Homo sapiens: one gene and its partners. The protein of the gene in region 7 purifies or fractionates together with the protein of the main gene of each other region. This does not show direct contact. Each region holds a gene or a part of one and is shown on either strand. Other genes may lie near its edges. The genes, in order: ACTA2, RFC2, GEMIN5, SMARCAL1, RFC1, POLA1 and RPA3.

Region 1 (3,500 bases), on a different chromosome or scaffold from region 7:
TTTAATTAACAGTGTGTGGTGGCATGCAACTGTAGTCCCAGCTACTCAGGAGGCTGAGGTGGTAGCATCATTCGAGCCCAGGAGTTCGAAGCTGCAGTGAGCTGATCATACCATCAGCTGTTGCACTCCAGCCTGGGCAACAGAGCAAGACTCTGTCTCTAAAGAAAAGGAAAAAAATGTCCTTGCCTATTAGGTTTTATTAACTAATTAAAGGATGATAGTTCTGTAGATGAGAAGAGTAGCCCTTTGCCACTGCAGGGAATTAATCATCTGTTGCTCACGTCAACTCTGTTGCCCTCCTAGGACAAGCAGTGCATGAGCAGCAGCTCAGAGAATGAAAACCCTCCTTTCATTTTCATCAGGGGCTGCATGGTTATCCCTCTCAGTGCAATATAGCTAAAGGGGCTTGAAATGCTGGGAGTAGTCTTAAACAGCCCATTCTTGAAAGGTTTTCATTAACTCACTCTAAACATCTAAATTAAAAATGTTTTTGTTTTCACTATAGTAAACAGGAGTGTAACATTGCAGGTTTGGTACATTTCTGAATGCCTCTCCACACACTGAAGCACAAGAGCCACTGAAAAAAGCTATATGATAAATATTTTAAAAATTATTTATCTGTGTTGCATTACATGAGGCCTTATCTCCCAGACACTTAATAAAAGAGCTAATGAGAAGAAGAGCTAAATTCTAAGATTTTGATGTTTGGTCATTAAACATTACAGACACCAGTGATCAGAGAAAAAAACAGAAGAAATAATGAGAAAGTGACATAAAAAATTTTAAATGCAGCAAGATATATCAGAATCACGATATCTGGCCTTTTATTTATCTATCGGCTCACTACTACTACTACGCACACAATTTATCACTTAAAAGAAAAATACATAATGTTGTTAGAATTTATCAGCAGTAATGCTCCAAGCTCTATCTTTCTACAAAAATTTCATATCAGTAGGTTTGCTTGAGGATTCTAGATTTGGTAAGATTGCAGTTTGCACAGAGAAAAAGATATCAATATCAATAGGAAAATATTCTTTTAGAATTTCTCCATGGAGCTGACAACATCTTAGAATGTATCGTCCTAGACAGAGACTATTGGAAGAAAAAACTTTCCTTATTTCTAAAATTTAAATTCAAAGTATCTTCTGGTGGGGACGAAGAGAGAGAGAGGAGAAAGGTTGCTTGCTGTGACTGGCAGGATTTTTTGAGCAGTCTGCTGCTTTCACTCCACTAAAGAAACAAAACTTTCAGAAGTTTCATTTCCCTTCTATAAACCACAAATCCAAAACAAAAGAAAGTGGAATAAGATAGTCTTTAAAGCTAATCTTGGTTTTGCTAATTTGTAAGCTTTCACCAGCAGTTCTTGTTTTGCTCTGTTTTGATTTTGAGTGAATCTCATATTCCTGGCTCTGGTGGAGAATTTTCGTGCTTTTAAAGATTAATTAATTTAGTCCTTTTTGCAATGGTTTGTTCTTTTCGGCATCTAGGAATTAAAGAAAGTGCTCAACCATAAATAAATGTAGTTATGTCCAAAGTACCTTCACATAGACACACTATACACAGGCGTGGGCCTTTTGGAAACACCTGAAGGCCAAATGTCTGACTGTGAGTGGAAGATCCAGAGTGTGCTGATAGAGGAAGCTTTTCTCATCCCTCGAGAGCAAAGAGGGTGATGGAGGCAAGAGTCAGAGAGCCCTGTTCTCTTCTTCATGTACACTGCAAAGGGCAACTTCTCTAGAAGCATTAAAAGTGTCAATTAGGTTTTCAAGTAAGCGTCATTTATTCATATATACATTCATTTGTCTTTTTATTTACAAAATTAAATCATTTTCCCATGAACATTAAAATGGGAAGAGAGAACAAAGAAAATAGAGTTGAATAATAATAACATTGATTCTGGACCAGACACTGGGCTGGACAATAACTCGAGGGTTACCTTATTTATTTACACAAAGACCCGATGAGGTACACACTAATTATTTTCATCTCCCTATTACCAATCATGAGACTGAAGCTGAGAAGGGTTAAAAACTTGCCTAAGCTCACACAACTAAGAAGTGTCCGAGCTGGGCTTTGAACCCAAGGTTTGATCAAGGGTTGTGCCCTTAACTGCCATACCATCCTGCCTCACAGATCTGGGTTAGGGATTCTGCTCAGTCACTTAGTAGATGTGAATCCTTTGGGAAGGTACTTACACACTTTGAGCTTCAGTCTCTGCATCTATAAAACCATGGACACATGCATGAGTACTTGTAGCATTTCCTTTGGTCTTGGTTTCAAGTAGCTTCTGGTCCCTTTTTGGGAAATGCAGGACCTCATGACAGCACATCATTGTGTTTCTCCTCTGTCCCCCAACTCACTAGATCTGGCACCACTCTTTCTACAATGAGCTTCGTGTTGCCCCTGAAGAGCATCCCACCCTGCTCACGGAGGCACCCCTGAACCCCAAGGCCAACCGGGAGAAAATGACTCAAGTAAGTATGCTACCCCAGCACACAACACTGTGGGGTCTGGGGAAACTTCTGTTAGAAGGAGGCTATGCAGCACAGCAGAGAGAAGGCCGGAGCTAGGAGTCCACCAACAGACTAACAGCCTTCAGTGAACTCAGGGATCCCAAAGGACAGGAACAGCTTGAAAGTACTTGCATCCTTCCTGCAGGGACCAGCCCTTTGCCTCCAAAAGCAATAGGAAATTTAAAAGATTTCACTGAGAAGGGGCCACGTTTAAGTTATAATGTCTAAGGAGAAGTCACTTCAAAATGCAGCATCACATACAATAGGAATTTGGGTTCCAGAGTCAGACATATCTAGGTTTGAAAACTGGATCTGCCACTTATCAGTTATGTGACCTTAAAGAACTCCGTTAATTTCTCAGAGCCTCAGTTTCCTTGTCTATAAGTTGGGAGTAATATTAATACTATCATTTTTCCAAGGATTGATGTGAACATTAATGAGGTGAAATGACAGATGTGTATCATGGTTCCTAATAAACATCCAAAATATAGTACTTACTATTGTCATTATTATTACTTGTTTGAAGCTAAAGACCTCACAATAGAATCCCATCCAGCCCACCAGACAGAGCTCTGAGTTTTCTAGTTTGGAAGAGCTATTAAATAACAACGTCTAGTGTCAATTCTATACTTGTTATGGTCAAGTACTGGGCTCAGCATTTTACATTCATTGTCTCTTTAAGTTCTAGCAATGTGAAGCAGGAACTATGATTATATTGACTACATAAATGAAGAAATTGAGGCTCAGATACATTAAGTAATTCTCCCAGGGTCACACAGCTAGAACTGGCAAAGCCTGGGATTGATCCACGATCTTCCAGCATTGAAGAATCATAAATGTAAATAACTGCAAGGCCTTTTCCTCAGAAGAGCTCCTGGTGCTTGCACCAACCCACTAGCACTTGTTCTCTACAGGGGAACATCTGTGGGCCTGGGAATCACTGCACGTCGCAAGAGATGTTGCTTCTGATGAATTATTGTTCCT
Region 2 (3,500 bases), about 67 Mb from region 7:
GCCTGGGCAACAGAGCAAGACTCTGTTTCAAAAAAAAAATTTTTTTTTTTTAATGTGGCAGTAATTCATGTTCTTTGAAGAAAATTTAGAATATATTAATAGTTTGCTGCCTTTTTATTTATTTATTTTTTTGAGGTGGAGCCTCACTCTGTTGCCCAGGCTGGAGTGCAGTGGCATGATCTTGGCTCACTGCAACCTCTGCCTCCTGGATTCAAGTGATTCTCCTGCCTCAGCCTCACGAGTAGCTGGGACTACAGACGTGCGCCACCACGCCCAGACAATTTTTTTTTTTTTTTTTTTTTTGTATTTTTAGTAGAGTTGACGTTTTGCTGTGTTGGCCAGGCTGGTCTTGAACTCCTGACCTCAAGAGAGCCACCTGCCTCGGCCTCCCAATGTGCTGGGATTACAGGCATGAGCCACTATGCCTGGCCATTAATAACTTGCTTTTTTTCTTCTCTTTTTATATACTATCAATGTTTACACAGTTGAGATCATAATATATATAATTTTTGTATCCTGGTTTTTCCTTTTAATGTTGTAGGCATTGCTCTACATTATGATAATCTGGTAAACAGGCTTTTTTGTATTTTTTAAAATTTTTTGTAGAAATAGAGGTCTTACTTTGTTGCCCAGGCTGGTCTCGAACTCCTGGTCTCAAGCGGTCCTCCCGCATCAGCCTTTTGAGATGGGAGGATTGCTTGAGCCCAGGAGTTCGAGGCTGCAGTGAGCTATGATTCCACCATTGCACTGCAGCCTGGGTGACAGCAAGAACCTGTCTCTTTAAGAAAAAAAAAAGAATAAAAAAGGAAGAAAGAAAAGTTGGCAGCTGGTGTCATGATTGTTCTCCTGAATTTGTGTCATGAAGGACTGGAGAGAACCAATTCCCACAAGTGTGATGGCAGCCCTTGTAGATCGTGGTTTTCGTGAGTTTCACTTGAGGGTTGTTCTGATGCTGTAGGTACTAAATGCTGTTTGCACAGTCTTTGAGAGAGCGGCCTGCAGGTGTTAGCATTAGAGGGATGGCCTGCGTACTTCCAATGAGACCCTCATTTAGGACATTGGATGTGTCTTATGTCCTGGGTTTTTGTATAGGGAACGATTTGTGTCACATGGTCTCTGGGTCCCACTTGCAAACTTGTGTTTTTCTTCTCAGCATGACCGACGGAGCCCAGCAAGCCTTGAGGAGAACCATGGAAATCTACTCTAAAACCACTCGCTTCGCCCTTGCTTGTAATGCTTCGGATAAGATCATCGGTGAGTGGGAGCTTTCGGTGGCTGGGGGCCACGTGGTGCTCAACTGGGCTTTTTTCTTTTTTATAGATGTGGTCTCCCTCTTCGCTCAGGCTGGAGTGCAGTGGTGCCATCACAGCTCACTGCAGCCTCAAACTCCTGTGCTCAAGTGGTCTTCCTGCCTCAGCCTCCCAGTAGCTGAGACTACAGGCCTGTGCCACCACACCTGGATTTTTTTTTTTTTTTTGAGACAAAGTCTCACTCTGTCGCCTAGGCTGGAGTGCAATGGCACGATCTCAGATCACTGCAACCTCCACCTCCAAGGTTCAAGCAATTCTTGTGCTTCAGCCTCCTGCGTAGCTGGGATTACAGGCTCGCACAACCACACCCAGCTAATTTTTTTTTTTTTTTTTTTTTTTTAAGAGATGGGGTTTCACCATGTTGGCCAGGCTGGTCTCAAACGTCTGACCTCGTGATCGCCTGCCTCGGCCTCCCAAAGTGCTGGAATTACAGATGTGAGCCACTGCACCTGGCCTCGCCTTGGCTCTTTAGCGCTGGAAGAGTAGGGATTTTTTTATTGTGTAGCATGGGCCAAGCACTATATAATCAAGTTTTTAAATTTATATTTTTTTAATTGACAAGGAGAAATTGTATATATTATGCACATGTTTCCCATTGTAATCAACTTTTAAATTTAATCTTACATAATCCTATGAGGAGGTATTATTCGCTTCAGTTTAGAGATGAGAAAACTGGAGCTTATCCTGATGTTTAGGATCTAAGGAAAAAAGAGAAAGAAAACGAGCTTGGAGAGGTTGAGTAGTTTCCCCAAAGTCAGAGCAAGTGCAAGAGCAGCTGGGATTGGAGCCCCAGTTCTATCACCCTCTTGCACTCTTGGAGGCACAAGGATGTTGTTGATGTCCCCTGCACGGTGTCACGATCACAGTCGCTCTCCAGATACCTTCTTGTGCTATTCATGTGCTCTGAGTACTTGGTATAGGCAGTATCTGTACATTGGAATTTGTTGCCTCCGGGAAGCTCCTCTCTCAAATCCTGCAGTCCGTCTTTTCTCTAACCTTACTGTTTGCCCTTCCACCTCCCTCCCTGCAGCCTGTCTGCTTCTGCATGGGTTTGTCCCGCCCCAGGTCCCAAGAGTGCTCTAGTCTGTCAACTTCCTGCTGGTTTCACATCCTTCTCTTTCTTTTTTTTGTAGAGAGAGTCTCGCTCTGTCGCCCAGGCTGGAGTGCAGTGTTGCGATTTCAGCTCACTGCTATCTCCGCTGCCTGGATTCAAGTGATTTTCCTACCTCAGCCTCCTCAGTAGCTGGGATTACAGGCATGTGCCACCATGCCAGGCTAATTTTTGTATTTTTCTTAGAGACGAGGTTTCACCATGTTGCCCAGGCTGGTCTAGAACGCCTGGCCTCAAGTGGTCTGCCCACCTCGGCCTCGCAAAGTGCTGGGATTATAGGCGTGAGCCACCACGGCTGGCCCATCCTTCTCTTTCTGACACAGGCTGCCTGCACAGCCCAGCTGTCCTCTTTCCTCATTTTTCATTGCTCTCTCAGCCGCTTTCTTTGCCTCACTTCTGCCCTGCTGAACCCCAACCATATGAGCTCATCCATCTGACAACCCCCTTGCCACCCAGGCCGCTGTTGCCGACGAGCGCATTACCAAATATGGCACCCACAAAGTCATGGCTACCAGCCCTGGTGGGGCTCTCAGCAGTGTCAAGAATCCTTTGCATTCTTTTCCCTTCCCAAAATCGCACTGATTTGTGCATTGATTCATTAACCCATTCACCGAACGCTTAACTCTGGTTCTTAGTAGCCGCCAGGCACCATGCTAGTGGAGAGCTCGTGGAGTTTAATGAGAAGTATTCTCCACTTTGCAGATGCCAGCAATGAAATGGAGAAAAATGCATTCCTAGGTCTTGATTTGGCAGGGCACAGTGGCTCATGCCTGTAATCCCAGCACTTTGGGAGGCCGAGGCAGGTGGATCCCCTAAGGTCTGGAGTTCGAGACCAACCTGGCCAACATGGTGAAACCCCATTTCTACTAAAAATACAAAAATTAGCCGGGTGTGATAGCGTGCGCCTGTAATCCCAGCTACTCAGGAGGCTGAGACAGGAGAATCACTTGAACCTGGGAGGTGGAGGTTGCAGTGAGCCTAGATCACACCACTGCACTCCAGCCTGGGCAACAGAGAGACTTGGTCTCAGTAAAAAAAAGAAAGAAAGAAACTGGCCAGGCATGGTGGCTCACACCTGT
Region 3 (3,500 bases), on a different chromosome or scaffold from region 7:
TCTTATTATAAAATACCCAAAAATACCACATTCCTTACTATCACCATCAGTCTCATCAGAAAATTCTAACTTATGGGAAACTCAGGCACACAAGTGGTAGGTACAAGTTTTCTAAAATTCTAATTTTTGCTAGAAAACTCGCATTTTATCATTAGTAACAAATACTGTTGGTTGTTTTTAATGAAGTGATAGGCCTACTTTGTTCATTTTTGAGAAAAACATCTGCCAAATACCCAACACTGAATAACTGTTATTTATGTTAGTCATTTTTTTTTTTTTTAGAAGAAAGAAGGTTCTATGAAAAAGCAGCCAGTTTAGCTTGTAATTTGTTCATACAGGTGTTACCTAGAGACAACCATTCTACTTTGGAATGCAGCAGAGAACACAAAATGTTCTTCCCATTTGTCACACAGAATATTAAAGTGTTTTGGACTTGACGGATTTAGTAAAATTTGTAATTTTTACTGCTTCATTAAGGGCATTCTTCCTTTTTTTCCACTGTAAGAGCCACCGCCTTCCTTCTTAGATGCCAGGTTTCCCAATCACTGCTTTGGCACAATCAGTGCAAATGTCAACACATTTTTTTTTTTTTAATAAAAAAGCACATAACTGACTCTTAGCATTGTTACGAAAATAGTTTTAACCTCATGAACCCTCTGAAAGGTTCTTGAGGACCCCCTAGGAATCCACAGACCACAATTTAAGAACTGCTGATCTAAGTGAAGAAACGAATGCAGCATATGTTTCTAATTTGTCTATATAATGCAAGTGCAGTTTTTAAAGGAAGTTGGAACAATAAGACAACACAAAAGGGACAGTTTGTCCTGTCTTACAGCCCCTCCTAGGACCATACACAGAGGAGCCTTTTCAGATTGGCTAAAGGGTCTGTTCTTGCCTTTAGGGAAGCTATTGCGATTGCCAAGGCCCGGCTGCGCCCGGAGGACCCAGTCCTGAAGGACTTGTACCTCAGCTGGGGAACCGTCCTAGAAAGAGATGGCCACTATGCTGTAGCTGCCAAATGGTAAGCCTGAGGAGTGGAGGGATGCTTCCAACATAGGAGAGCTTCTGCCAGGAAGGGGAGGACAAGAATACAAGTAATAAGTTTAGAGGTGGAGGTAAAGCAGCAAGGAATTATTTAAAAGATATGTATATTCAACTTAGTTTCATAAGACTCATCAGGAACTACTTCCTGATTTATTTATATAAATCACTATAACTATTCAAGAAAAACCTCAGCAGCAGATTAAGAAATTATGCATTTTTCTAATGGTCTCTTATAACATCAAATAAAGGAACCTCAACCCATGCTGGATTGAACCCAACAGAGGAGTCATTCCCTCTCATTTTCCTTATGTCCTTAACCTATATGATATTGTTTCTCATACACTCTGCTGAGTTGTGTTGGCCTCAGCCTTCACAGGAACAACCGGGGCAGTGACATACCTGGGACCACAGGAAGGCACATGCAGCAAAGTAGATAGAAAGAAATGATTCCATCCTCTAGGAATGGGAATAAAAATCTGTTTGTGACATTTTCTTCACATTTTTATTCATATTATAGCTATTTAGGGGCCACTTGTGCTTATGATGCAGCCAAAGTTTTGGCCAAAAAGGGGGATGCGGCATCACTTAGAACGGCTGCAGAGTTGGCTGCCATCGTAGGAGAGGATGAGTTGTCTGCTTCCCTGGCTCTCAGATGTGCCCAAGAGCTGCTTCTGGCCAACAACTGGGTGGGAGCCCAGGAAGCCCTGCAGCTGCATGAAAGTCTACAGGTCAGTCTGTTATTTCATCTCCTAGTATACAAGAGGGAAGTGTCCCAAATCCTTTTCTAGTCAAATCCAAGTTAATAACCCAGTTGCACAAGCTGTGCCAATTTGGCAGGCCCAGCAAGCCCTGGCCATGCTATCCCACTGAAGTACTATGACTTGTTAGTTGCCGTATTCAGAGTAAGAGATAATATGGTCATTCACAGTAATTCCCATTGCTTATCTGTTTGTACAAAACACCTGTGAGCCGGGCACAGTGGCTCATGCCTGTAATCCCAGCACTTTGGGAGGCCGAGGCAGGCAGATCACTTGAGGTCAGGAGTTTGAGACAAGCCTGGACAACATGGTGAAACCCCGTTTCAACTAAAAATACAAAAATTAGCCGAGCGTGGTGGCACGCTTCTGTAATCCTAGCTTACTTGGGAGGCTGAGGCAGGAGAATCACTTGAACCCGGAAGGCGGAGGTTGCAGCGAGCCAAGATCCAGCCTGGGCAACATAGTGGGACTCTGTCTCAAAAAAAAAAAAAAAAACACAAAAAAAAACACCTTAGTCAGCCCAGGCCTTGGGTTGGCAGTCTAGGGTTTCTTCATTGATGTTATCAGCACTGTCTTCCTTGAAGAGAGAATGGTTGGCCTCTAACAGAAATCATGGAACTCTACCTGTAAATGCCCCTCTTAACTGTAAGCTATGGAAAAAAAACTGGGCCAGATGCAGCAGATCGCTTGAGATTAGGAGTTCAAGACCAGCCTGGCCAACATGGCGAAATCTTGTCTCTACTAAAAATAAAAAAATTAGCCAGGCATGGTGGCACACATCTGTAATTTGGCTACTTGAGAGGCTAAGGCAGGAGAATTGCTTGAACCCAGGAGGCAGAGGTTGCAATGAACCAAGATTGTGTCACTGCACTGCAGCCTACGTGACAGAGTGAGACTCTTCAGAAAAAAAAGAGAAAAGTGTGGGAAAATGGAAATCTCTTTATTTCTTAAATTTTTTTGTTCCCATCTGATTAAAAATCAGTAACATACCACTGCCTTTTTGACACATCAAAACAGATTAAAGCATTGGCACACTTACCTAGTTTCTGAAACATGTAAACATTTGATTCACTTTAGATAACTTTGTGAGATACTAACAAGAGGTTTTTTAAGTTCTTCATTCTCTAACAGAGTACAGGGCCTACAGATGGTTTTTAGCTGAATATTTAGAGCCCAAGGAACGTGGTACATGGGGAGGTAGCTTTCTAGGAACAGCAGAATAAAAATGGAGGTGAAAATAGGACACCCTAAAAGATAATGCCACTGGGCATTATTTATAAAATGACCAAGTCTAGAAAGATTTTAATTTATCCACCATCAAAAAAAGTTTCCAGAATGACTGTTTAGCATTTTATTTTTCTCTTAAACAGCATCCTTAACAAAGCAAAAAAACCTAATAAGCATATGCTAAATATTCTGATAAGGGCTATTTTGGTTTTGTGCAACAGAGACTCTTGCAAGCTTAACTGAGAAGATATTGTTATAGGAGTACACAAGGAATCTCATGGCAACTAAAAATCTAGTGAAAGTAGATTTTCTAGGCCTTCTCTGTGCTTCTGTTTTCTTCTCTCCCAGCCAGCTTCCTCTATTAAACCTATTTGGACATGGCTCCTAATGCCTGTCCCAGCTCTTGGATCTGCAAAGCTTGTCTATTCCAGCACCTTTGGCCCATTATGCTTTTATTCCTGAGTCCAAAGT
Region 4 (3,500 bases), on a different chromosome or scaffold from region 7:
AGAAGTCAGCATCCTGGCTGTGGTATTATACTATAGTTTTTATAGAATGTTACCACTGCAGGAAACTGGGCAAAGGCCTAAGAGGGATCTCTATTATTTCTTACAATGGCACCTGAGTATAAGCAGTCATCTCAATACCAATGTCAATTTGAAAAGAAAAGCTCTGAAGGCAGGGGCCTCTGCTGAGCTGGAACCTGGTTCTGTGCTGGAGCTGTGGCTGGGTGTGGTTTGCTGAGAAGCCCCCGGGGCTGTTGCCCACCTTGCTTCTGCCCCTTGTTCCTGCAGCACGTGCAGCACATCCGCATCGATGGCTCCACCTCATCAGCTGAGCGGGAGGACCTGTGCCAGCAGTTCCAACTGTCGGAGAGGCATGCTGTGGCCGTGCTGTCCATCACCGCTGCCAATATGGGCCTCACCTTCTCCTCGGCTGACCTGGTGGTGTTTGCTGAGCTGTTTTGGAACCCAGGGGTAAGAGACGCAGAAGACTCAGATACTCCCCAGGCATGCTCATGGCTGTGGGCAGGAAGCAGTGAGTGTCGGTCGGGGAAAGTGTGGTTTCCCTTTTATCCATTCATTATACTTCCCACAAGTCAGTTTTCACTTCCTTTAAGCACTTCTATGTTGATTGACTAGTCTCTTTTTTTCTTTTTTTGAGACAGAGTCTCTTATCACCCAGGCTGGAGTGCAGTGGCATGATCTTGGCTCACTGCAACCTCCGCCTCCTGGGTTCAAGCGATTCCCCTGCCTCAGCCTCCCGAGTAGCTAGGATTACAGGTGTGAGCCACCACGCCAGGCGATTGGCTGTTTTCTAGATTTTCACAGCAACCTGTAGGATTATCGACTCCATTTTATCAACGGGAAGGTTGAAGTCTTCCAGGGCTAGAAGGAATCTTGACTTCATGTCTCATAGGAGGAAGTTAGGGCACCGAGAGCTCAAGGGGTGAGGCAGGACTGCACTGCCATAACTGAAGAGGGCACTTGGTGGCACCAGGTTGCAGCCCAGGCCTCACGTTCCAGCCTGTGCCCCCTTTAGTAGCCATCATTGTGAGCTGCTTTAACAATGGACCTCACACAGAGTGACAGCAGTGAGGGTTTCCTGGACACCACCACTGGCCTCACCTGACCAACTGAGGACAGAGATAAGACATTTGTTTGAACTCTTAAATTTTTCTGGTAATCTCCAGAAAAGTTATATCCCCTTTAATATTTATATAATATTTAATAATATTGTGGTTTTTATTGGCTACACATAAGAGACTACATTAATAATGGGTAGACCTTGAGGGTGTAGCCATTTTATACAAGAAATAATGCTCATGATGTTAGGTGGTTTTTTTTTTCTTTTGCTTTTTTGAGACAGGGTCTTGCTCTGTCACCCAGGCTGGACTGCAGGGACTTACTGGCTCACTGCAGCCTTGATTTCCCGAGCTCAGGTGATCCTCCCACCTCAGCCTCCTGAGTAGCAGGGGACTACAGGTGCACGCCTCCATGCCTAATTTTTGTATTTTTTGTAGAGATGGGGTTTCACCATGTTGCTCAAGCTGTTCTGGAACTCCTGGGCTCAAGCAATCTGCCTGCCTCAGCCTCCCAAAGTGCTGGGATTACAGGCGTGAGCCACCACATCCAGCCCTTAAGTATTTATTATAAGGCTTACCACTATATTAAACCACCACCCTATGCCCAAATCATGGATAGCCTCTCCCTTGTGTGTGATGTTTTTATTTATTTAGAAGATAACTTTTTATTTCATACAGTGAAGAAATGGAAGTGTGCAGGCCTCCATCACCAGCCCCTCCCCATGCAGCCTGATGGCAGAGCCTGTGCCTCTTCATTTGCAGCACCTAGCTCAGTGCCCAGCACTGAACAGCCACCTGCAGATCTTCTGCTTCAGATTCCAGTTCCCCAGCCAGGGCTGTTTTGGGTTCTCTCTTTTGTTAAAGTGGCAGGTCATTTGTAGGTCTGAGATGGTAAAGTGCAGGTTATTTCTAGGTCTGAGACAGTGAAGTGCTTTGAGGAGGGAGGGTTGTGGTGGGACTGGAAATGGGGTGGAGAGGAACCATACCTGCTATGGTGGATGGAACTGCTTCAGGCCTTTACCTGCCTGTCTCAATTCCTGGACACACAGGTGCTGATCCAGGCTGAGGACCGCGTGCACCGCATTGGACAGACCAGCTCCGTGGGCATTCACTACCTCGTGGCAAAGGGCACAGCTGATGACTACCTTTGGTATGGCTTGGTTGGGTGGCCTGGCAGTTGGAGTCGAGCAAGGGTGGAAACTGATGATATGTTTACTTTGCTCCCAAAGTGCTTCTGCTTTTGCTAAGTAAGGTCTTTAAGGATCTATAGAAAATTGACTAGTGATGCCCTCCTGCTTTCATCATGACCATATTTGGCCTCCCTCACTAGCGTTCACTGGTGGCTTGCAGGGTGCATGCTGAATCTTATAGCAATAAGGGGTTGTGGCTCCTTTTGCTGCTGGTCTGAGGCAGGGAGAAGTGCTGATTATGACAAAATATAGATGGAATTTAGTTTGTAAAACACCCTGTTCCCAGCTGTGAAGGCATTTGTTAGGACAGGGTGACAGTCTTTTACCTTTTATGATGTGCATTTATCTGGTGGGCACATCTTACATTGCTGCTGCTGGACCACAGGGAGAAAGTGGCTTACCCTGGACTGTGTAGTGTACTTCGTTAGCAGAGCTGGAGTAAGATTTTCAACCCTAGGGTTTTCTGTCTGTTACCTAAGTGAAAAATCTCAAAAAGCTTCTTCCCCTTATCTCCCCCTTCCTGATACAAAATTTCTTGATTATCTCATTTGTTTCCACTGCTTGTCTCTGTTTCCAGCCTTATGACTAAGGAGTCTTCCCTTTGCAATGTGTGTGGGTCACTCCTACTTCCCCCTTTTTAGTGGATTTGTTAATTGGGCAGCTCATAATACCACCAGATTCAAAATTGTGTTGAAATGAGGCAGCATTTATTTCCTACACATCTTCCATTAGAAAGAATATTGAACCTGATGATATTCTTAGCCCTAAATTGGAGTTTTTACAAATGAGAGGGGGCAAATTTTTCAAGATGGGTGTTTGCACCTTGAGAGATGCAGAGATGTGAAACCGTAAACAAGCCGTTGTCCCATAAGAACAAGGAGGGTGGCCTCATTTTCATTAGTCTGGTGGTTCTGTGCAGGTTGTATTCACTGCAGCTCATTTCTCCCCAACAGGCCCCTGATTCAAGAGAAGATTAAAGTTCTGGCAGAAGCCGGGCTTTCTGAGACCAATTTTTCAGAAATGACAGAATCCACTGATTACCTCTACAAGGTAATGCCAGCACATGGCTCTTCACCCCTGGAGCAGAGGGAGGCATTAAGCTGTCTGCCAAGTCTTTGGGTCCTGAGTAGGAGGATGTGAATCACTCCTAGGGACCTCCCCCAGCCTAGAGCTGAAAACAATGGCCTGCAGTCATTCTCAGTTGAACCATGCATGCATCGCTTTATGGGGAAAT
Region 5 (3,204 bases), on a different chromosome or scaffold from region 7:
GCCACATCATCGGTGGCTCCAATGAAGACTCAACCCCAATACAGACCATTCAGATTCACATCCAAACTGCTGCAGAACCACCAACTGCCTCCTACCATGAATCTCACTCATTCACCTCATGGTCACGAGGGCTTCAAAGAGGAATCAGACCTATGCCATCCTCATAAAGGGCATATTTACAATTTCTAATTCTAAAAGAAATGCTATTAATTTTACACACATATTATCCCAATCTTGGGTTTAAAACATTTAAAATTACAAACAAAATCATAATGAACAAGTGAAGGACACTATGCCGCATCCTGGCTGCATGGAGATTCAAGTCTCTCTCCTGGGGGCTGCAGAAGACCTAGGGAGACGTGACTTGCATATCCAAAAGGCATAGAAATGGAAGAACATGAATAGGAAAGCCAGCCTCACCCTACTGGTGAGAAAACCTTTCCTGAAGCATAAGAATTTCAAGATGGACTTTAACAAAGACAGGGTCGTGACTCAGCAGGCAAGGGCTTAGGCAATGTTTTATTTCCATAATGAATTAATCTCCATAAATGACATTTTTCACACTGGTAAATACAGTTTAAATGTCTCAAGAACTTTGTCTCATCACCCAAACAAGACTACCAGTTCCTTAAAGCAGGGAATACGATCCTTATTTTACATTCATTTTAGTATATACCTCACAGAGGTAGCACAGACCTCTGAGCATTTACCAACAAGATTAAAAAATAGCTAGACATCTAAATTCCAGGCTAGGTCCATAGCCTCACGGCCACTCAACACATACAGTTATAGGAATAACCCAAACTTCCAACAGGGTTTGTGGAAGCCATCACAGGACAGGACTAGATCTCTCAGGGGCAAAGTGAACAAAAGCCAGTGTTCATTTTGTCCCCCACCATAGTGAAATTAAGAGCCTGACCCAGCCTGGTTCCTACTGGTCTGAACCTGATGGGTTGAGACTCCAGAAGGATAAGAATGTCTGAGAATCTTCTGCAGCCCCCCACGCTGCAAAGCCCCATAACAGACCACTGCATGAAATCCTATTCACAGCAGAGACGTGGTCAACACACACAGAGGGAGTGAGGCTGGGAATCCGAGTTCTGACTCCTCGACTGCCAATGTTATGTTTCACACAACAGGTTAGTAAGGAATACAGTGAGCTTTTTTAATCCAATCATTTGCAAATTAATAAGGAAGTAATATACCAACATAATATTTTGCTGTACAAGATGACAATCTTAAAAAGAATTTGTACACATATCATGTGGAACATTTTTATTCCTAATTTATACTTTGAAAGATATCTGACAATGTACAAAGAATACCCAGTTCTAGGTGGTGACTGTTTTGTATAATCATTTATTTACAAAATTTCACCACATAATAGGAACTGCCTTTAAAAAAAATCAGCATTGGTCCTATAAAGGCCATTAGGATAAATTCTTAAGCCTACAAAAGACGCCTTAGTACTACTGCTCCCAGGCTCATTATTGTTAACTAAAATCTGACTCCAAAGCCCAGGTGTAGTTTCTAGTTCCAATTCTACAGTCATTCAGAAGCACGTCTAACTAGATTGACAGAGGACAGTGGAGGACCCAAGCAGTCCTATCAACCTCTATAAGAGGTGTACATAAGCCTACTGCTCATACCCTTCTAGCCATACCACCCTTTATTTATAATGGGACACCAGGTCATCCCATTATGCTAAAACATGGTTGCTCTGGGAAAAAACAAGGCTTTCTCTAGACCAGCTGGACTGGTCAGGAGGGAGAGTAAAAAGTGGCTGTCGCTAGTGAAAAATGGTTTCATTTCTTCGAACTTTTTCCTTTTCCTTTTCTGGGCTCCTTATCTTTTTCTGGTTTTGAAGGCTTTGAAGATTTTGTCTTTTTCTGTTAGGGGGAAGATAACAAAATAGTTAATAGCTGTGTTTATGAGTAAATGAAATAAGTTCATCTCTATAACAAATCTAATCTTTACCTGCAACTTAATTAAAAAAGAAGAGAGGCTGCAAACATCGAGATCTTGAACTACTGCAACCCATGAAGCGCTTACAGCAACAACTGCGCCACTTACAGCCTTTAAAAGCTGGCAGTAAAAACTTTTAGTTTAGAATTTAGAACTAGGATCCGTTCCCCATGTAAGACAGTTTCTTGGATTTAGAACAGAGGTATACTTAGGAAAGACAAAATAAGCAAGAGGTAATTGACAAATAGGGTAATGTTTAGATGAAGAATTTCCTCTTCTTTCAGTTTCAGATTAGAGGTGTAAACAGTCATTTTGTGAAAGCAGAAGAGAGGGAGAGAGGAAGACCACCTGTTAGGGTCGACATGGGAGCCACAGTGAAGAAGGCCACTATTCCTACTCCTGCATACAGAAAACAGAAATGAAGGGCAAGAAGCACCCACACCCAGCGAAGGACAGAGGAGGATCAGATGAGGTTCCTTGGCTCAGCCAGCTGTACACAGCAGGCTGATACCACAATTGGTTTTCATATTTCCCATCAAAAGACAAGAATGTTTTGCTCTAAGAAACTTCTACAAAGCAGTTTAGTGGCTATAGCAAAACATAAGCAACAGAAGAAACTGTTTTGTTACAAACATTTTTCTTGAAAGCATACACCAATGGCTAGATAAATAAAAATGGTACTTTTTCTAACAGAACATATGGCCGTCAATATCATGGCCTGTTTTCTTGCTGTTTGGCTCTTCGACTACCATAAGAAACTTTATAAAAATGAAATCTCTACCTTCTCCACCCTCAACCATGATGAACAAAAAAACTTAAGAAGTATTTTCAAGTTATTCTGCTATGTGCTGAAAAGGCCCTATTATTCACCAGGCAAGGAAAGATCATCTATTTTGAGGTTCTCCTGTCTGTGGCTTAAAATACTACCTTGATCATGGCATCAGTTTCTATAGCATCTTGGTCTTTCTCATCAGATTGAGAGTCATCTTCATTTAATTCTTCATTGTATTCCGAATCCAGGGATGGGCTTGTGCTGTGTCTAGATGCCTTTATAGCTTGAAGTGAGTATGGAGTAAGGTGGGCTTCCTTATTGTAAGCTCTTGTGAAGGCTGCTTTCACCTATATGAAAGGAGTAGATGGAGTTTTTAAAAATCTAAGTCCCAAACAATTCTTTTAAACTCTGTAAGCCTAAAGAGACCCTGGGAGCCCCCTGCAACTGTTTGCAAAGTATTTATGTAT
Region 6 (3,284 bases), on a different chromosome or scaffold from region 7:
CAAAAAATTATTTTATTCCATCTCTCAGTGATGATGACATGATTGCTTTTTGGTAATCATTTACCATTCTGATTTTATTTTTTGAAGTAAATTGTCTGAAGTAATAGGTTCTTGGAATTACAGCGTGCCTTGCTTTTTTCTTAGAACTTTATTTAAGCTTGTCTTCCAGCATTTAACCCGAGTCCCCTCTTTCGTTTGATCTTCTAACTTTATTTATACAACAGTGCTTAATGATCCTGCACAATGTGTTTCTTTTTTTTTTTTCCTTCTCTACAACCTCCCCCCCCACACCCACCCAAAAAAAAATTCTGTCCAGTATGGTTGACAGTACTTTTTATAACCTCAGCAAGGGGGCTGCATGGGCAATTTTCTTCCGACATGACAAATGCAAACACCCAAAACCCAACCCTGAGAGAATCACTTCATCCAGTTGAAAGGAAATTTTTTATCTCTTTCAAGGTGACTCTTTTGCCACTGAAACATGGTAAGGGGCACGACTCTTACCTTCTATTCTTGTCTATAGAAGTGGCATTCTTTACATTGCTTTATTCTGTCTCCTCCCTTCTCGCATCGGCCTCTGCTCTTCCCCAAACTTCCACTGAACAACCCTTCCTGGTAGTTGGGCCCCATGGCACCTCCATTTGCTTTGAGTGTGAAGGGTCACTGTTCACCACCACCAGGCTGCAGCAAGCCTGTGTTTATTGAACATGAACCAGACCAATGGTGGAGAGAATTATAATCACACTTCTAAATACTTGTCAGATCAGCCTACAGCCTAGTAGAGCACTTGAGCTAAACCATGGATATTTTATTCTTCTTGAAGGCTGTATTTTGGTATCAACATAAAAGAAGAAAAAAGAAAGAAAACTGAAGATAATTATTTCTAAGTAGGAATGGAACTGGATAGTGGACTAACAGACTCTTCAAGCCTTCAGAAATATTTTAGCATCTAAGATGTGATTTAATGGGTGAGAATGGTCCTCTAGGCATTGGCTAATTGATAGACACATTGATCACTGTGTGTGCCTGGCACTGTGCCTTGTGAATTTTTTTTTTCTAAATAAGAATTGACTCAAAGATTATTTCTTTTCATTTCTTACTTTGAGAAATGTTTATGTACTTGCCATTTGATTTGGGGCCCTAAATGTCTTTGAGTTTAAAATATGGATGTCACTTGAAATCTTTCAGGTACTGTGCATAGCCGGAAGCTCAGTTATATGGATCGATATTCAGGAAAAAGGCAGGCCAGAGGCTCCAGCAGCTCTCTGTAGGTCGGATGGCTCTACGTGTAGAGAGCGTAGAGGGGTGCAGTTTTCTTTCAAATTTTTCTAAAGCTTCCTGCATTCCACCCCTTACTGCAAAGCTCACGTTGCATTGAGGGAGGGAGGCTATGGATTGGAAAAGGTGGGAGAACTGAGAACTGTATGGTGGGAAGCCATGCAATTAAAAAACTGACTGAAATTATTACCTGATTTCATAATTGACAGAATATTTAATTCAGATATAGTAAATTGACACACCTCTACACAGAGACAATTATGACTGACTGTATAACACCTGACAGAATCAATTATAACTGACTGTTGTTTGATACCTTTGTACAGAAATAAATGAAACAGACATTCAGAACAGAGACGGCTGCTGCCTGTGTGCCTAAGCCTGCCTTAATTAAAAGAAAATAACCAGTAGGCGATGTTAAAATGTCTTTGCCTCGTGGTTTCTAGTTCAGTGTGTTTCTTTAAGTCCAAAAAGGGTTTTATAAAGAGTAAAGTTGAAAAGAGATTTTTGGTTTACTGACATGGAACTAAAATATGTGAAGTAGAGTTAGTTTCCTTAGATGGGAGAATACTCCATTATTTTAATAGAGCTAGCATTTTATTTGATCAGTTGACTTTTATATAAAATATTTAAGAAAGGTCAACCTACAGATGATGGTCTAGTTCATCCCATATAGAAAAGAATGTAACTTTCATTATTTTGAGGTTTTAGATTCTAATCAATAGAAATCAACTTTTAAATGAGCAGTTCATTTTGTAGTCTGATAAAATATTTTGTGAATAATTAGTATCTAGGCTACCCTTTTTTTCCATCGTTTTCATAGGGGTTAGGGACAGAATATTTTTGGTAATTAACATATAACCACAGGGAATCAGAGCATGTAGAAAGGATCAGAGTAAATAAGCTTTATATACACGTTCCTCGAATGTTATTCTCAAGAAAAGTTTAAAAAGGAGATTAGCTTTGCTGATGTATTAAGATGAGTGATTTCTGGGTGATACTTCAAGCCATTAGAGTATATTTCAGTGACGCACTTGTGTGTAGGAAGAGCATTTCCTCCCCGATCTCGACAAAGGTTGGCTTTGTGGTGCTGGTGGCGGAGACAGCAGTTACCAGGGCCAGTGGCATCTCTGTGGACAGGGATGGGATGGCTGCGGATCTTCTCTGGCTCTTGCCTAATGGCATGTTGGAATCTTTTAACAGTTGTTATTGGGCACCTGACCTGCAGCACCTGAGGTGATGGCGTCGTTACTGATAGGCTGACTCTCAAAATCAAAGCAGGAAAAGGAATCAGGGTTTTACTGGCCACATTAACTGGCCTCCACCAGTTAACACCTGTATTTTCCCTTGAGTTCTAAAGTGGTGGATATAGTATTGACAGAAACAGGGTAACAGTTTAATGTGAGGCCTAACGTGGGTGGCCCAGGTGCCTAAAGGGGGAAGAGAAAAACCAGGAAGGGGTGACTCCTTCCCCCCACCAGCCCCTGTCCCTGACGCAGCCTGTGACAGCTAGTCCAGTTCTGTTTCCTAGAAGACCTTCCATATGTTATTGATTAAATTCTCTTTGGGGAAGCAAGTGGGAGCTTTTATCTGCATCTCTAACTGGCGTGGAATGGTGCCTTGGCCGTATTGACTGGCTATGGGATATGCTGGCGGTCACAGTTGTCTTTTAGGAGGAAGAGCACCGAGTGACGCTGGTTGTCATTCTAACTCTGCTGTGTGGCAGCGTAAATAGTCCCCTTTCTAACCAACCTGGTGGGAAAAGTCAATATCCCATCAGCAGAGGAGGTAAACACATCAGGAGCTATGTCCTCTCTTTTCCTCCCCTGCTCCGTATTACCGCAGCTCTTTAAATGTGCTCTCCCCAGTCATCAGATGCATTTGTGTCATTCACATGCACGGGGTTGCTGGCCTGTGGCTCTGGCCTGCCGGGAGGCAGCCGACACTGGTTGGGGCCATTGTTGTTTATTCCCAGACTCAGATCATTAGAACTTTCAAATTGTCTT
Region 7 (3,500 bases):
CATAAAGCTCATTATATTACCATCCTTTAAAACCATCTCAACCTTCCTTTGTTCTCTGCTTTTCTATATAATGAAGCATCAGTTGATCTTATGCCAAATAAATAAAAAATGAATAACAGATGGATAATCACTCAAACCTACCCACTCTGATGTGATTTTTGTTGAAATTTTATTGAACATATAGATTAATTTAGGGGAGAATTGCTATATTTACAATATTTAGTCTTCTTCAGAAATATATTTCTGTCCATTTGCTTAGGTTTCCTTAATACATTTTTGTAAAATTGCCATGCATTTTTCATAAAAATCACATTTCTGCTTTTGTCAGATTTATTCTTAGAGTGCTTTTTTGTTTTATTATTATAGTAAATATTTTTAAAGTTGTATTTTCTGTTTGTTGCCAGCATAGAAACATGTAGCTGATACTTGTAGCAACCATCTTGATAAAATATTTACTTCCCATAATTCATCTTTAGATTCTTTTGAATTTTCTAAGTACGTAATTATAACCTCTGTGAATAGTGAGTTTTGTTTCATTCAAATCCTTGTGGTTTCATTTTATCTTTTGGTCTTACTGCATGGTCTAGGACCTCTAGTATGTTGAAGAGAAGTGTCAAAGAAAACATCTTTTCCCCACTTTTGATTGTAAAAAGAATGCTTATAATGTTTGCAATTGTGAACTACTACATACAATACATTTTGTTTTTTTGGGTTGCTCCTGGTTGGCTAAAGGCTTATTGTAGAAACATAATAGGCATAGAGTGTTGTTAGAATTGGTATAAGATTTGATTTTAATAGAATTCACCTGTAAAAATTATCTTGGCCTCGTGTTTCTTTAGTGGGTAGCTTTTATGTACCGAATGAATTTGTTGATAATTGCAGACTAGCCTATTGTGTCAATTTGGTAAGATATTTTTCTAGGTGATTGCTCATTCAAAAAATATTCTAGGGCCGCGCGCGGTGGCTCACACCTATAATCCCAGCACATTGGGAGGCTAAGGCAGGCAGATCACAAGGTCAGGAGATTGAGACCAGCCTGACCAACATGGTGAAACCCTGTTTCTACTAAAAATACAAAAAAAAAAAATTAGCTGGGCATGGTGGCGTGCACCTGTAGTCCCAGCTACTCAGGAGGCTGAGGCAGGAGAATCACTTGAACCCAGGAGGCGGAGGTTGTGGTGAGCTGAGATTGCGCCACTGCACTCCAGCCTGGGTGACAGAGTGAGACTCCATCTCAAAACAAAACAAAACAAAAACAAACAAACAAACAAATCTAAGTTTATAGACAGAGTTTTTTTTTTTTTTAAATGATATCTTCTTACCATTTTTTAATCTCTGGGATTTTCATTATGTTCTGCTCCTCCCCCCCATGGCAATATTGTTTATTTATTGCTTTACTATTTATTTTCTTAGTGTTTTCAAAAGACCAGTTTTAGGATGTATTGTTCCTCTTTTGCATTTTATTTTCTGTTTCATCATTTCTTGCTCTTACCTTAATTATTTCCTTTTTCATTTTCTTTGGAGTTTATTTTGTTAGTTTCATTTTGACTTTTTAAGTTGGTTGTTTGTCCTTGGATCATCATTTTTAAGCTTTTAAAAATTCTAATATGTTCATTAATAATGCCCTGTATTTCCCTTTAAATGCTATTGAGCAGCTTCCAAATTTTAATTTGTATTATTTCCATTCGTTTGTCATTTTGCACATTTTTCTCTTTTCAAAAAATTAAAAAAATTTTTTCTAGAGGCAGGGTCTCACTCTGTCACCCAGGCTGGAGTGCAGTGGTGTGACCACAGACAGCTCACTGCAGCCTCGACCTCCTAGTCTCAAGTGATCTTCCTGCCTTGGCCTCCTGAGTAGCTGGGACTACAGGCATGTGCCACCACACCTGCCCCACACGTTTTTCATCGTCAATACTTCTTTGTTGAGTTATTTTTAAATGTTTTAAGATTTCCAAAAATTGAGTTTTTTTGTGTGTTATCTTTTTGATGAAGATTTTTAATTTAATGTCCTGTGGTCAGAGAGGGTGGTACAAATGATAGAAATTCCTGAAATGTGTTGAGACTTGATTCATGGCCTTTTCTCAAAGAAAAGCATATCAGTCTTAACTGACCTCCACTTATATGACTTTGCATATTGACCAGCATTTCCAACTTTTCTATAAATCCTTGGATGTTGACAGCATCTAGTTTATTCTCTGATGAGCAGACTTTCTTTGGCTGCTCCAGCAGAGTGCTGCTGAAGTGTCAAGCTGTTTGCTCCTAAATGTATGTACTTGTTTATTATAATTGCATGATTTAATTAAAATATGAATTAAGAGGTTGTACTTAAACATGAATAAAGAGGGAGTACTTATAGCTACGAAACTTTGTTAAATGCTTTAGAAATAATCTATATAGTTTAATTGCTAAAATAAAAAAGGAGCTGTCAATTTAGGTGTGGGTGAGATGACTTAGGATCTAGGAATCAGTGGTAGATTGATTTGTAAATATCTTTAAATTCTCATTTGCTTTAAAACAGTTGGAGGTTGTGTACAATGTATTATATGTTGGACTTACATAAGAAAGACTTAGAACTCCATCAGGTGTCCCTAACTGCAAATAAAGGCCTCAGCTGAAAACCTTCCTGGGGGAAGGTTAAAGCAAGTAACAGGTTGGAAGCTGGGAGAAAGTCAGGATTTAGGGTGTTGGGCACTTGTGTAGAGTAATTTTTTTATTTCCTCATGAACTGGTTGTTCAAAAATTTTTCTTTTTTTTTTTTTTTTTTTAGTTGATAGTAACACTTGCAGACCTGTTGTACCATGTGGTTGAACTAAGCAGAACAGGGGCACTAGAATTAAACAACAACAACAACAACAACAAAAAACTACAGAGGAATTACAGTTGCCATAGGCAGCAATGAAACTAGAACTAACCAACTGCAGTTTTTTGTTGTAGGCAAATCCACAAATCTTAGAACTTAAAAAAAATACTTTTTTTTAGTGTTTTACGAGATGAACTCTGAATTATAGAATATCTCACCATTAATATGCACCTTCAGCATAGAAACAGTTAAAGAAAATAAACTTACCTGAAACTATTGTATTCCCTGTGCATTGTCTTCACATCCTTTTTCTGAGTACCTGAGACAAAGTGAACTACAAGTAGGATAAGAACTGAAAAGTTTTCACCAGATTTATGAATACAGTTTCATCAATGATCTTGGTGAATAGTAGTAGCAGAAGAGTTGACCATAGACCTTATAGCTAGCTGTTAGAATAGCTAATTTAATGAATTTTTTCCCAAATCTGAAACTCAAAGCTACTGATAACCAAAGCTAGTTCCCTGATAAGTAACTTAGGGAAGTGCACTCTTATTTCAATAATTAATGCTTCCATGAAATTATATAAACATTCATGCATTCCGACAATATCTGAATATTTCTGTGTGCTAGGTGCTGTGCTGGGTGTTGGGTATGCCATTATGAACAATACAAAGAAGAGCTCTGTTTTCATTCAAATGAG

The links.
Region 1: the proteins of RPA3 (region 7) and ACTA2 purify together in Homo sapiens (affinity purification with mass spectrometry, with the first as the bait; one large-scale study listed by BioGRID). This does not show direct contact.
Region 2: the proteins of RPA3 (region 7) and RFC2 purify together in Homo sapiens (affinity purification with mass spectrometry; 2 studies listed by BioGRID and IntAct, with this or other methods). This does not show direct contact.
Region 3: the proteins of RPA3 (region 7) and GEMIN5 purify together in Homo sapiens (affinity purification with mass spectrometry; 2 studies listed by BioGRID, with this or other methods). This does not show direct contact.
Region 4: the proteins of RPA3 (region 7) and SMARCAL1 purify together in Homo sapiens (affinity purification with mass spectrometry; 3 studies listed by BioGRID and IntAct, with this or other methods). This does not show direct contact.
Region 5: the proteins of RPA3 (region 7) and RFC1 purify together in Homo sapiens (affinity purification with mass spectrometry; 3 studies listed by BioGRID and IntAct, with this or other methods). This does not show direct contact.
Region 6: the proteins of RPA3 (region 7) and POLA1 purify together in Homo sapiens (affinity purification with mass spectrometry; 2 studies listed by BioGRID, with this or other methods). This does not show direct contact.

The regions. Positions count from the first base shown.
Region 1 is NC_000010.11:88,942,774-88,946,273, reverse strand, and holds part of ACTA2 (actin, aortic smooth muscle), read left to right. Parts: intron 1-2,366; coding exon 2,367-2,477; intron 2,478-3,500. UniProt on the Homo sapiens protein: Actins are highly conserved proteins that are involved in various types of cell motility and are ubiquitously expressed in all eukaryotic cells.
Region 2 is NC_000007.14:74,240,900-74,244,399, reverse strand, and holds part of RFC2 (replication factor C subunit 2), read left to right. Parts: intron 1-1,153; coding exon 1,154-1,254; intron 1,255-3,500.
Region 3 is NC_000005.10:154,896,712-154,900,211, reverse strand, and holds part of GEMIN5 (gem-associated protein 5), read left to right. Parts: intron 1-901; coding exon 902-1,021; intron 1,022-1,561; coding exon 1,562-1,772; intron 1,773-3,500. UniProt on the Homo sapiens protein: The SMN complex catalyzes the assembly of small nuclear ribonucleoproteins (snRNPs), the building blocks of the spliceosome, and thereby plays an important role in the splicing of cellular pre-mRNAs.
Region 4 is NC_000002.12:216,474,984-216,478,483, forward strand, and holds part of SMARCAL1 (SWI/SNF-related matrix-associated actin-dependent regulator of chromatin subfamily A-like protein 1), read left to right. Parts: intron 1-285; coding exon 286-468; intron 469-2,125; coding exon 2,126-2,226; intron 2,227-3,219; coding exon 3,220-3,316; intron 3,317-3,500. UniProt on the Homo sapiens protein: ATP-dependent annealing helicase that binds selectively to fork DNA relative to ssDNA or dsDNA and catalyzes the rewinding of the stably unwound DNA. Rewinds single-stranded DNA bubbles that are stably bound by replication protein A (RPA).
Region 5 is NC_000004.12:39,286,956-39,290,159, forward strand, and holds the end of RFC1 (replication factor C subunit 1), read right to left. Parts: intron 3,085-3,204; coding exon 2,893-3,084; intron 1,890-2,892; coding exon 1,806-1,889; 3' UTR 501-1,805; downstream 1-500. UniProt on the Homo sapiens protein: Subunit of the replication factor C (RFC) complex which acts during elongation of primed DNA templates by DNA polymerases delta and epsilon, and is necessary for ATP-dependent loading of proliferating cell nuclear antigen (PCNA) onto primed DNA.
Region 6 is NC_000023.11:24,990,918-24,994,201, forward strand, and holds part of POLA1 (DNA polymerase alpha catalytic subunit), read left to right. Parts: intron 1-3,284. UniProt on the Homo sapiens protein: Catalytic subunit of the DNA polymerase alpha complex (also known as the alpha DNA polymerase-primase complex) which plays an essential role in the initiation of DNA synthesis.
Region 7 is NC_000007.14:7,712,108-7,715,607, forward strand, and holds part of RPA3 (replication protein A 14 kDa subunit), read right to left. Parts: intron 3,120-3,500; 5' UTR 3,068-3,119; intron 1-3,067. UniProt on the Homo sapiens protein: As part of the heterotrimeric replication protein A complex (RPA/RP-A), binds and stabilizes single-stranded DNA intermediates that form during DNA replication or upon DNA stress.